3 linked regions of the Homo sapiens genome follow. The protein of the gene in region 1 interacts with the protein of each later gene in a biochemical or structural test. Each region holds a gene or a part of one and is shown in the gene's direction. Other genes may lie near its edges.

What was found.
Region 2: of the proteins of EP300 (region 1) and MAX, one has a biochemical effect on the other in vitro, tested with the Homo sapiens proteins (3 studies listed by BioGRID).
Region 3: the proteins of EP300 (region 1) and IRF3 form a complex in vitro, tested with the Homo sapiens proteins (3 studies listed by BioGRID, with this or other methods).

What each region holds. Positions count from the first base shown.
Region 1 is NC_000022.11:41,147,992-41,151,642, forward strand, and holds part of EP300 (histone acetyltransferase p300), read left to right. Parts: intron 1-1,046; coding exon 1,047-1,184; intron 1,185-1,769; coding exon 1,770-2,207; intron 2,208-3,651. UniProt on the Homo sapiens protein: Functions as a histone acetyltransferase and regulates transcription via chromatin remodeling. Acetylates all four core histones in nucleosomes. Histone acetylation gives an epigenetic tag for transcriptional activation.
Region 2 is NC_000014.9:65,095,930-65,099,580, reverse strand, and holds part of MAX (protein max), read left to right. Parts: intron 1-3,651. UniProt on the Homo sapiens protein: Transcription regulator. Forms a sequence-specific DNA-binding protein complex with MYC or MAD which recognizes the core sequence 5'-CAC[GA]TG-3'. The MYC:MAX complex is a transcriptional activator, whereas the MAD:MAX complex is a repressor.
Region 3 is NC_000019.10:49,659,201-49,662,951, reverse strand, and holds the end of IRF3 (interferon regulatory factor 3), read left to right. Parts: intron 1-334; coding exon 335-527; intron 528-623; coding exon 624-1,004; exon of another isoform or gene 1,005-1,502; intron 1,503-2,107; coding exon of another isoform or gene 2,108-2,123; coding exon 2,124-2,239; intron 2,240-3,118; coding exon 3,119-3,304; coding exon of another isoform or gene 3,305-3,363; 3' UTR 3,364-3,380; downstream 3,381-3,751.

The sequences.
Region 1 (3,651 bases):
TTTGAAAATCCTGTTTGTTCCTACTTTATAAATTCTCACAGTCATTTAAACAGACCATAACTCCTAGTTCTTCTGTAATTCTTCTGTATTTAACTCTACTAGAAAGCTGACCAAAAAACGAAAACAGCCAGTCCCTTGTCCCTGGAGTGTCAGTGTTTAGTGGCCTGCATGCGTTTTCACGGTCACTTCTCTTCCCTGATGTCTGTCTTCCCTCCTCCAGGCAGAGAACTGTCTTGCAAGGTTGATGGTGCGTTTTTGCCTGGTTCTTGAACTCGGAGAAGAGAGACTAGGCTTCTCCTGCTCCTTATGCGAACTCTTAACCAGTCCATCTCTCTACCTTGACCCTAACCCTCCTGCTGCCCTTTAGAGTTAGCTGGTGCCTCTGATTCTTGACCCTTTTGGGGGTTCCTGAGCATTACTACTTCTCACTAATCTGCCATTTTCAACAGGGAGTTCTGTCCTTCATTTTAACCTATAAGACAGATGGTCTTAGCTTATGAAGTTTTTGGCCTTTGGTACTCGAGATTTCTTTCTTTAAGGCCTGAATTTGTGTAGGGTAATTTTGGAAATGACATGTAACAGTGCTAGAGCATTTGTGGACCATGAATGCTACCAGATTCTGCTACAACTTGTAAGATTTTCTTGTTTTTACATATTATGGGTCTTAGAATTTGTGTTATTACATCACTGACATGACCTCATGAAATTGTGATTAACTCTCCTCACTTAACAGAGCATGCAAAGAAAATTACCTGCTATCCTTGTGCTAGGCATATTTGTGTACCAAGAGAATGTGTGTTCCATCCTCTTACTATTTCTTGGAGTAGGCCTAGGTAAACTGTGAGGCTATTTCTCTTTATCTTGGCACAAGAGTCAGTTGTTCTACAACTTTCTTCCTTCTCCTCTTCAGCCCTCTTCACCTATACTCCTGTCTTTGGCTTTTCTCTACTTAATAAGCCTGACGTTAGGAGCATTTGATGATTTTAGTTATAGTAGAATAACTATAATGAAGCAGTTTGGTGATTTGTGTTTTTTTTTTTTTTCAGCCTATGGGCTATGGGCCTCGTATGCAACAGCCTTCCAACCAGGGCCAGTTCCTTCCTCAGACTCAGTTCCCATCACAGGGAATGAATGTAACAAATATCCCTTTGGCTCCGTCCAGCGGTCAAGCTCCAGTGTCTCAAGTATGTCTCATAAGTGGATTTTTCACTTATTTTTGATTCTTGAAACTTCTCTTGATGTAGGTTTTTATAGGAGAGAGTGGCAGCAAATAGTGGGTGAAAACAGATGATTTTTTAAAAAATAACAATTTTGGACTTAGGGTATTCTGAACATGAAGAGATTATTCTGTGACATAGCAATGGTGTTAATTGTTACAAAGTAGGAAATAATTTAAATGGATAGTTTTAATTGTTTTTACTAGTGAACACTTTAAAATAAATCTTAGAATTAAACACAATGTAGAAGGAAATCTGGCTGAAAAGAGCATAGGCAGGCCCTAGAGCACTCTGCACTCAATTCTGCCATTTTTCTGCGGTGGCTGAGGCCATTCTGCTGAATGGTTTGAAGTCTCTTTAGTTAAGTACTATCTTGATGGTGCTGTCCAAAGATACATGCCCAGTAATAGGGTATTTTACACATTTTGAAATAGACACATTGCTACTCTTTGTTTAATCAGTTTGTGTCCTAAATTTATATATCATGCCTATGTAAGTATTTCCTTAATTCTGTTCTGAATTGCTGTCTTGTTATGTTTTTTATTTTAACAGGCACAAATGTCTAGTTCTTCCTGCCCGGTGAACTCTCCTATAATGCCTCCAGGGTCTCAGGGGAGCCACATTCACTGTCCCCAGCTTCCTCAACCAGCTCTTCATCAGAATTCACCCTCGCCTGTACCTAGTCGTACCCCCACCCCTCACCATACTCCCCCAAGCATAGGGGCTCAGCAGCCACCAGCAACAACAATTCCAGCCCCTGTTCCTACACCTCCTGCCATGCCACCTGGGCCACAGTCCCAGGCTCTACATCCCCCTCCAAGGCAGACACCTACACCACCAACAACACAACTTCCCCAACAAGTGCAGCCTTCACTTCCTGCTGCACCTTCTGCTGACCAGCCCCAGCAGCAGCCTCGCTCACAGCAGAGCACAGCAGCGTCTGTTCCTACCCCAACAGCACCGCTGCTTCCTCCGCAGCCTGCAACTCCAGTAAGTAGAGATTTGGATTTAGGCAGAATCATTAGAGCTATACTGTAGTATTATATTACTTCTGGGCCATTTCCATTCTCTTTTGCTTTATCTCTTACTGTTTTCTCCACAAGTAGAATGTAATCTATTTTTCATTAGGGACTTTTGTATCCTGTTTTGCCTTCCTGTGATAGTACCTATCGTAGCAGGAGCATAAAGATTTTATTTAGCTCTGACTTTGACCATTATGTTTCATGTTGTACCCTGAGGTCTGAAGGTACGTAAAGGGGTACGACAAGGGGACACAATCCTTCTCCTTATTTAGTATATTATTTAGTGCAGCACATAAATTTTACATATATTTAAGGAATCTTTTTCAAACAGTTTGAGCCATAAAACCTAGAGATTGAATTTAAAAATTGCAGATTTGGACGGGCGCGGTGGTGTACACTTTTCATCCTAGCACTTTGGGAGGCTGTGGCAGGCAGATCACTTGAGGTCAGGAGTTCAAGACCAGCCTGGCCAACATGGTGAAACCCTGTCTCTACAAAAAAATAACAAAAATTAGCCAGACATGGTAGCGGGTGCCTGTAATCCCAGCTACTCGGGAGACTGAGGCAGGAGAATGGCTTGAACCTGGGAGGTGGAGGTTGCAGTGATCCGAGATTGCGCCACTGCACTCTAGCCTAGGCGACAGAGTGAAACTCCGTCTAAAAAAAAAAAAAAAAATTGCAGATTTATGAGTCCTTGTGGCCCAAACCAAAGTTTAAAAATAAGATGAGAGAATTATAGACCCAGAACAACCTGTAGCTTCCTTGTGAGAGGTTGGTTATGTATATAATAAAAATCCAAATTCTCATCTAATAGTTGAATCCTTATTAATAGAACTTTTTTTAAGGGTTTAGAAGCTTCTACTTTGATACCGATATTAATATATATCGGTATCCAATAGTTCTCAGCCATGTTGATGAACTGAGAAGTTCCATGAGTCACAGCCGTTTTATAAAGTACTGTACTTGACGGATGGCTGGTTCATCGTGGCCTCTGATAGACAAGGAAGGACAGAATGAGAGAGGAACCAGTGGATCTGCTTGATTTTATTCTTTATAAAATCAAGGATACTTCCAGAAAATACTGACTTCTCATTAAGAGATTTCTTATGACAAGCCTTAGGATAAAGATAGGGAATGCCAGTTTATCTCATTAGAATCTAGCGATTCAAAACAGCCACTCTCTGGGACATCATTATATTTATTGTCTCCTTTTCTGTACCTTTGAAACTTTCTCTGGTGAGAAGGTAAAAACAAGCCAGTCTTTCTTATTTTCTTTCACTCATTTCTGTATAAATGTGAGCTCCTCTGAAGCAGACATCTTTGAAATCCCCACACACTGCCAGATAATGATAGTTATCAATGAAATAGTTGCTGGTTCTTTGATGTACAATCAGCCAACCAGTATTTACAAG
Region 2 (3,651 bases), on another chromosome or scaffold:
AGAGAAAGTTGTGTTTTTTTTGTTTGTTTGTTTGTTTGTTTGTTTTTTTGGTGAAATTTTGGCTCGCAGTTCTTGAAAGCTTTCTGCTTTTCAAAATTTTCATCCATATGATCGTTGATATAAATTTGTTATTAAATTATTATAATGTTTCTGCTTTCCTGGAATGCTAATCTCATTGTTTTGTCTAGATGTTTTTAGTTTGCTGTTAAGGTGCCTAGGATTTTTCCTTTTGATTTTGGGGGTAGGCAAAGGAAGTTGGTTTGACACTTTGTTTTTAATTTAACACATCTATTTGTTGATATTTCTAAATATTACTCTGCACAATGTAATTACAACAGCATGGAGAGAAAAAGCAGATATGTTATAAACAAATTTTATAGTATATCAAACAACTATTGTGACTGTGTAGGGTAAAAAGGATTCCATTTTTTCCCCTCTGTGAATGCATCTGCTTACTTCTCAATATTTAATATGGATAATAAATATATTTTTTAAAATTTAAGAGGGAGCTATTCTTAAGTTTTGCCTTAGAAAAAAGGTTTAAAAAAAGATGTGGACTGTGAACAACCAAATACTTAGGTATTCAGGACTACAGAAGATGTTGAAAAAGTTATTTGAAAAGGGTTCTGTGGATCCTAATATAAAAACATTCATGTATGTTTTATAATGTCACTACAATATATAGGCCTTACTACATGAGAAATGTAAGATACTGAGAAGAGAGTTAGGAAGTTAGGCTAACTCTAACAGAAAGTGAAACTGATTTGGCAAATATTTTTTTCTATTGCTTCAGTACAAACGGAAAACAGCTTCTCCAATGGCCAGTAAGCTTTGTTAAAGGAAGTAACCCCAAAGAGTATTCTTACTACTAAATTCAGTACATCGCAAAATCCCACTGATGTTATTTTTATTATATTTTGGAGGGAAGAGGTTGCATTTTAAAGATAAATTTGTGGGACAGGTATATTATATTGCAAGGGCTTCCTTTTGCTTTATTTCTGTTTGGGAAATTTCTTTAGGAAAGAGTGTAAGTATACAGGAAATGTATGGGTTAGTGTGTTGGTCAGGAAATGCAATTTTTTTTCCAGTGACCATCCTTGATGGCACCTGACTGAGTTGCAGTTGCAGTATACTTGTGAGGGGTTTGAAAACAGATTTGTGCAATTCCACTTCTGGACCTTTCTGGCATGAAATATTTTTAACTTCTCAGAGCTCTTTGCTTCTTTAGGAATATTCAGAAGAGAACGAGCTTGGTAGCCTCCGAGATTGGAATTCACTCAGGAAACTACTGTCTGTTTTACCTGCAGTCAGTTGCATGGCAAAAGTGCTGCACAATGCATGTACTTTTTCTCTGCTTAGAGTGTTGACAGTGATGCTTACAGTGATAACAAATGCCAGAGTTAGTTCCTAAATGTGCCTGTGTTAGGGTAAAAGTTGTTCTTATGTCTAAAAGAATTTTTCCAAGATGCCAGTAACGGTGAAATAGTTGGTCAAAGAATTCAGCTTGGTTTTTAATTAAAATTTCCTGACCAAGGCATCCTTCTCTGAAATGGCTATAGTATGAGGCCCTGTTTGGATTATAGCATTTGCCAGTTATTTTAGGCACCAAAAGAAAAAAGTTTGAAAACAAATACATACATTAGATAATGTTGGAAATGTATACCAGGCAATCAGCTACAAGCAGGACAGGTATTGGAAAATTGAAATCCATGTCTTTCTCTTAGGGAGCTTGGTGAGTTTATCCCATCCTACCTGCCTATTATTTTATGTTATAATTTTTGGGTTGATTAAAATGAATATTTTAAGTTGCTTAGAAATTGAGCTTTATCCTATCTTGTTCTTATCTATCAGAAGTAAGAAATAGATCTTTTCGGATGAGATTTTTGGGTCTGTGTATTCTCGTGTCCTTAGTCTCTAATAAGAATAGCTTGATAAGAATCATAAGCAACACAAGCTTCCCTCTAAAATACAACCTTCACATTTTGTAAAGGTAGTAAATATTGAGTGGGCAACTAATTCCCTATATGCTGAGAATTTTCTGTATTAGAATTGAGATGGTTCCCCTTATAGGTGGGGTTAGCTGTCAGGTAGCCTGTAAGACATGGCATTGTTCTGGAGAACCTTGTGCATCCTGGAATAATGAAGCATTTATTTCCCCGTGCTATTTGCCTAGAACTTGGAGGAAATAAGATTACTGACTGATGTGATGCCTTGAACAAAGATGCAGTCTCTCTGCAGTAAGTTGGAAGGAAATAATTTTAAGAGATTTCCCTCAATTTTGAACAGACCTCCTTAGCCTAGATGACTTCTTGCCAACATAGCAACTTCTTGGCTAACAAAATAATGTTTGTCTTCAACATCTAACAACACTTAAGATACACGTGCTTGGTAGTGTCAAAGATGGACAAATTGTAGGTGAAGATTTTTATTCTGTCTACCAGTGTGGAAAGTTGGGTAGAAATATAACTGAGAGGCTGAATAAAAACTTTGGCAGAGATGTCAAAGCTGGAAGTGATTTGGTGCGGGAGTTTCTGTTGAGCATCTGTGGACCACTGCATAGCCCCTTAGTATTTCTGTTAGGGATGCCCTGGAGGAAGGGTTTTCTGGCAGACATCCAGACGTACAAATCCAGCGTACTAGAAGAGTGGGCAGCATCCAGCCACTGTAACCATAGGATGTGTAGGGGAGATGTTTGGGAGCCTGCTGTACAGTCCAAGAATACCTCTGTGGTCTCCTAGAATAGGGCCTAATTAATTCCACAAGGGGGTTTTCCGTACCATTTGTTTTCATTACTGAACATCATTCTCAGTACAGGCTCATCTGAGTAGAGTTTTATTTGTTCAAGACAATTGTTTGGGCTTGTTTTTTAAAACCAGTTTTGCATTTGGGGGAGGATATTAGATGCCTTACACTGGGAGTCTTCACCCAGTTTTTCTTCTTCAACTCTGAAATCTTGGCCCTCTCAAAAAGGGTTGCCAGCAAGCAAAGACAGTTAACAAGGCAGTGATAAAGCCTGCAAACTAGTCCTCCAATGGGGGTGGGGATGAGGCGCGGGCAGTGTTATTGGTCTGGGTGGATCTGTGGTTTGGAAATGTTTCCCACAGAGAATTCTCAGCCTTGTGTAAAGGTTTTTCTGTTTTTCATGTGCTCTTTCAAAACATTAGTGATAACATTTAATTCACAGTTGCCTGGAATTAGGCTTGTTAGTTCTGCATGTTTTTAACTTGTTCTTTCAAATCAAGCTTGGGGAAGAGAAAAATACATCCTTGCCATTGTCTCTGAGAGATTTAAAATTGACTCCACTAGTAGCTCAGGGATGGACATGGCAGCAGGGATTGGTGTAAGATTCCACTCTTCTGCTAGTTAAATTGGGCCTGGAACCACTACAGAAATTCCATCCACTACTTTGAGAACAACAGTCCCCAGCCCAGGCTTTCTACCAGGCAGTGGACTGCTGCCTTTCCTTGTTGAGCCAACTTCTCAAACTTGGCTGGCTCCCCAGATGAGAAGCCAAGATTTCTGCTCATGATCTACAGCCAAGTTCACTTACAATCCTCCAACCGAGAGACTTGTCCATTTGAGTCCTTTCAGAGCTCAGTGAATGGGAGGGGGTAGTGCATTGTGGGGATGATTTTGGTGTTAGATTATACT
Region 3 (3,751 bases), on another chromosome or scaffold:
GCTGTCAGCCTCTTGGGAACTGAAAAACTCCCTCACCTTGATCCTGCTGAGGCCCAAGCTGGGGGAGCATCCCCTCTGAAATTCTACCCAGCCTGCTTTGCCCAGGTCTTACCTGCATAGAGCCAGATCCTTGGGTTGGAATGGTAGCACCTGGCGTTCATTAGTGTTTGTTTGGCTGTTGATGCCATGGCTGGCTCTGTCCCCAGGCTGGAAGCCCCTTGAAGGCAGAGCTCAAGCCTGACCTCCCTGCGTTGCTGAGAACAGACCTGGTCCATATGAAGTCTCCAGAAAAGGATATGGAAATGCCTGATTCTCTTTTTTTGTTTCCCTCCAGGAAGACATTCTGGATGAGTTACTGGGTAACATGGTGTTGGCCCCACTCCCAGATCCGGGACCCCCAAGCCTGGCTGTAGCCCCTGAGCCCTGCCCTCAGCCCCTGCGGAGCCCCAGCTTGGACAATCCCACTCCCTTCCCAAACCTGGGGCCCTCTGAGAACCCACTGAAGCGGCTGTTGGTGCCGGGGGAAGGTGAGTGTCAGCTGCAGGCTGGGAGGGCTGAGGTCTGGGCGGCAGCCCCTGATTCTCAACCCCTCTCCCCTTCATGCCGCTGCTGCCGCTGCTCAGAGTGGGAGTTCGAGGTGACAGCCTTCTACCGGGGCCGCCAAGTCTTCCAGCAGACCATCTCCTGCCCGGAGGGCCTGCGGCTGGTGGGGTCCGAAGTGGGAGACAGGACGCTGCCTGGATGGCCAGTCACACTGCCAGACCCTGGCATGTCCCTGACAGACAGGGGAGTGATGAGCTACGTGAGGCATGTGCTGAGCTGCCTGGGTGGGGGACTGGCTCTCTGGCGGGCCGGGCAGTGGCTCTGGGCCCAGCGGCTGGGGCACTGCCACACATACTGGGCAGTGAGCGAGGAGCTGCTCCCCAACAGCGGGCATGGGCCTGATGGCGAGGTCCCCAAGGACAAGGAAGGAGGCGTGTTTGACCTGGGGCCCTTCATTGTAGGTGAGTGAGACAGGGGCTTCGACCTGGCCAGTACAAAGCAGCCTGCACAGTGGTTAACAACTCAGGATTGGCCGGGCACGGTGGCTCACGCCTGTAGTCCCAGCACTTTGGGAGGCTGAGGTGGGCAGATGACAAGTTCAGGAGTTCGAGACCAGCCTGGTCAACATAGTGAAACCCCATCTCTACTAAAGATACAAAAAAATAGTCGGGCGTGGTGGCACGTGCCTGTAATCCCAGCTACTCGGGAGGCTGAGGCAGGAGAATTGCTTGAACCCAGGAGGCGGAGATTGCAGTGAGCTGAGATCGCACCACTGCACTCTAGCCTGGTGACAGAGTAAGACTCCATCTCGAACAACAAAAAAAAAAGAACTCATGATTAGGACTGAATTCAGACGCTGGCTGCCCTTGGCCCGCTGTATAACCGAGGCAAAGGACTTTGCCCTGAGCCCGTGGAATCCAAGGATGGTCTCCTCTCTCTACCTGCCTGCCAGCGCTGGGGTGAGACACAGGCCCAGTACACAGAGCCTGCTCAGGGAATTAGCTGCCACTGTCATCATCATCGTAACTAATGATGGTGAACAGACCAATAGCAGGAAAGCTACATCCCTTAGGGTTTCGCTGTGCAGTGGCACTTTCTGCCATGATGGAAATGACAGTCACCTGCACTGTCCGGTGCAGCAGCCACTAGCCACAGGGGCCAAGCACTCAGGTGAGGCGAGTGCAACCAGGACGTGATTCGTTTTAATTGGTTACAATTTAAACTGAAATAACCTTACATGACTAATGGCTGCAATTGGACAATGCAGCCTCAGACAGGACTGAATGCCAACCAGCTTCTCCAGATTCACTGAGCATCCTTGGGAGCATGGGCCCCCTACTCTGGGCCTGTTATGAATGCTGAGGCTTGGGGGCTTGGGGGTGTGGCCTTCCAACAACCCCACCCTGATGGGAGGGAGGGAGGGAGGGAAGGAGGGGACTTTCCCCAAACAAGCAGTCCCCTGGTCGAGGCAGCAGAGGGCCTTAGGTCAGGGGAGGTGGTGGGGGTTATCATTCAAGTTTACGGGGAAGGGTGGGTAGAGGGTCCTCTTCTCATCCCTGACTAGGCTCCTGGGCCCCCAGATCTGATTACCTTCACGGAAGGAAGCGGACGCTCACCACGCTATGCCCTCTGGTTCTGTGTGGGGGAGTCATGGCCCCAGGACCAGCCGTGGACCAAGAGGCTCGTGATGGTCAAGGTGCCTGCAGACCTGAGTCCCTGGGGCTGAAAGGGGTGGCCTTACAGAGGGAAGAGGTTGCTCCCAGGAACTCCAACTCCCAGAGGGCCCTCTAAAAAACTGCAACTTCCAAGATCTCTGCAATAACCAGTTTTTCATCCCCGGGAGCTCCTTCCCATGGCCTCACCTGCAGAACCTGTTTTGAACTCTCTAAACCAGTGGCCCCCAAACTATTTGGCACCAGGGACCAGTCTCATGGAAGATAATATTTCCACGGACAGGGAGGTGTGGTTTCGGGATGAAACTGCTCCACTGCAGATCATCAGGCATTAGATTCTCTTAAGGAGCAGCCGATCCCTCACGTGCGCAGTTCGATAGAGTTTGTGCTCCTCTGAGAATCTAATGCTGCCGCTGATCTCACAGAAGGCAGAGCTCAGGCAGTAATATTCCCCCACCCGCTGCTCACATCCTGCTGTGCAACCTGGTCCCTAACAAGCCGTAGGGGGGTTGGGGACCCCTGCTCTAAACCATGTAGAAGCTGGTGGACTCAAGTTTTAGCTGCCATTGTGAGGCCATGGCTGTGGCTCCCAGGAGTCAAGATCACAGACTGCTCAGCCCTGACGTGTGTGTGTGTGTGTGTTTGTGTGTGTGTGTAAAACTACAACTCCCAGCAGCCCTAGGCCTATGGTTCAGTTACAGCAGGGGGTGTGTGTGTGTGTGTGTGTGTGTGTGTGTGTGTGTGTGTGTGTAAAACTACAACTCCCAGCAGCCCTAGGCCTATGGTTCATCCTAGGTTACAGCAGGGGCTGCAGGGAGTTGTAGTCCTCCAAGCCCTGACTCCTACCTTGGTGGACAGTGGCTGGGTGTTTTCCCTGACTCCTGTCCCCACTTCCCCTGCAGGTTGTGCCCACGTGCCTCAGGGCCTTGGTAGAAATGGCCCGGGTAGGGGGTGCCTCCTCCCTGGAGAATACTGTGGACCTGCACATTTCCAACAGCCACCCACTCTCCCTCACCTCCGACCAGTACAAGGCCTACCTGCAGGACTTGGTGGAGGGCATGGATTTCCAGGGCCCTGGGGAGAGCTGAGCCCTCGCTCCTCATGGTGTGCCTCCAACCCCCCTGTTCCCCACCACCTCAACCAATAAACTGGTTCCTGCTATGATCACTTGTGCGTGTCTGGTGTTGGGTGCCCTCTGACCCAATATGGTTGTTATTCCCGCTCAGGGTCTCAGTTTACCCATCTGTGCAGCTATATACAACTCAGGTGCTCAATGCATGAAGACCAAGCACTGCAGGGGGCAGCTGACACCTCCTCACTTCTGCCCAGGGACCTGGTGGGTGATGGCTGTCCCCGTGTTGTAGACCAAGACACAGGCTGGGAGAGGCGCAAAGGTCACAGAGTAGGAAACACAAAGACTAGCCAGAACCCAGGCCCCCTGCCTTGCCTATGAACAGTTTGGGCAAGTGGTCCTTCTCCTTCCAGGCCTCAGGCTCCCCTCCACGTGGGGCTGGAGGGGTCTTGGTAAAGGGGCT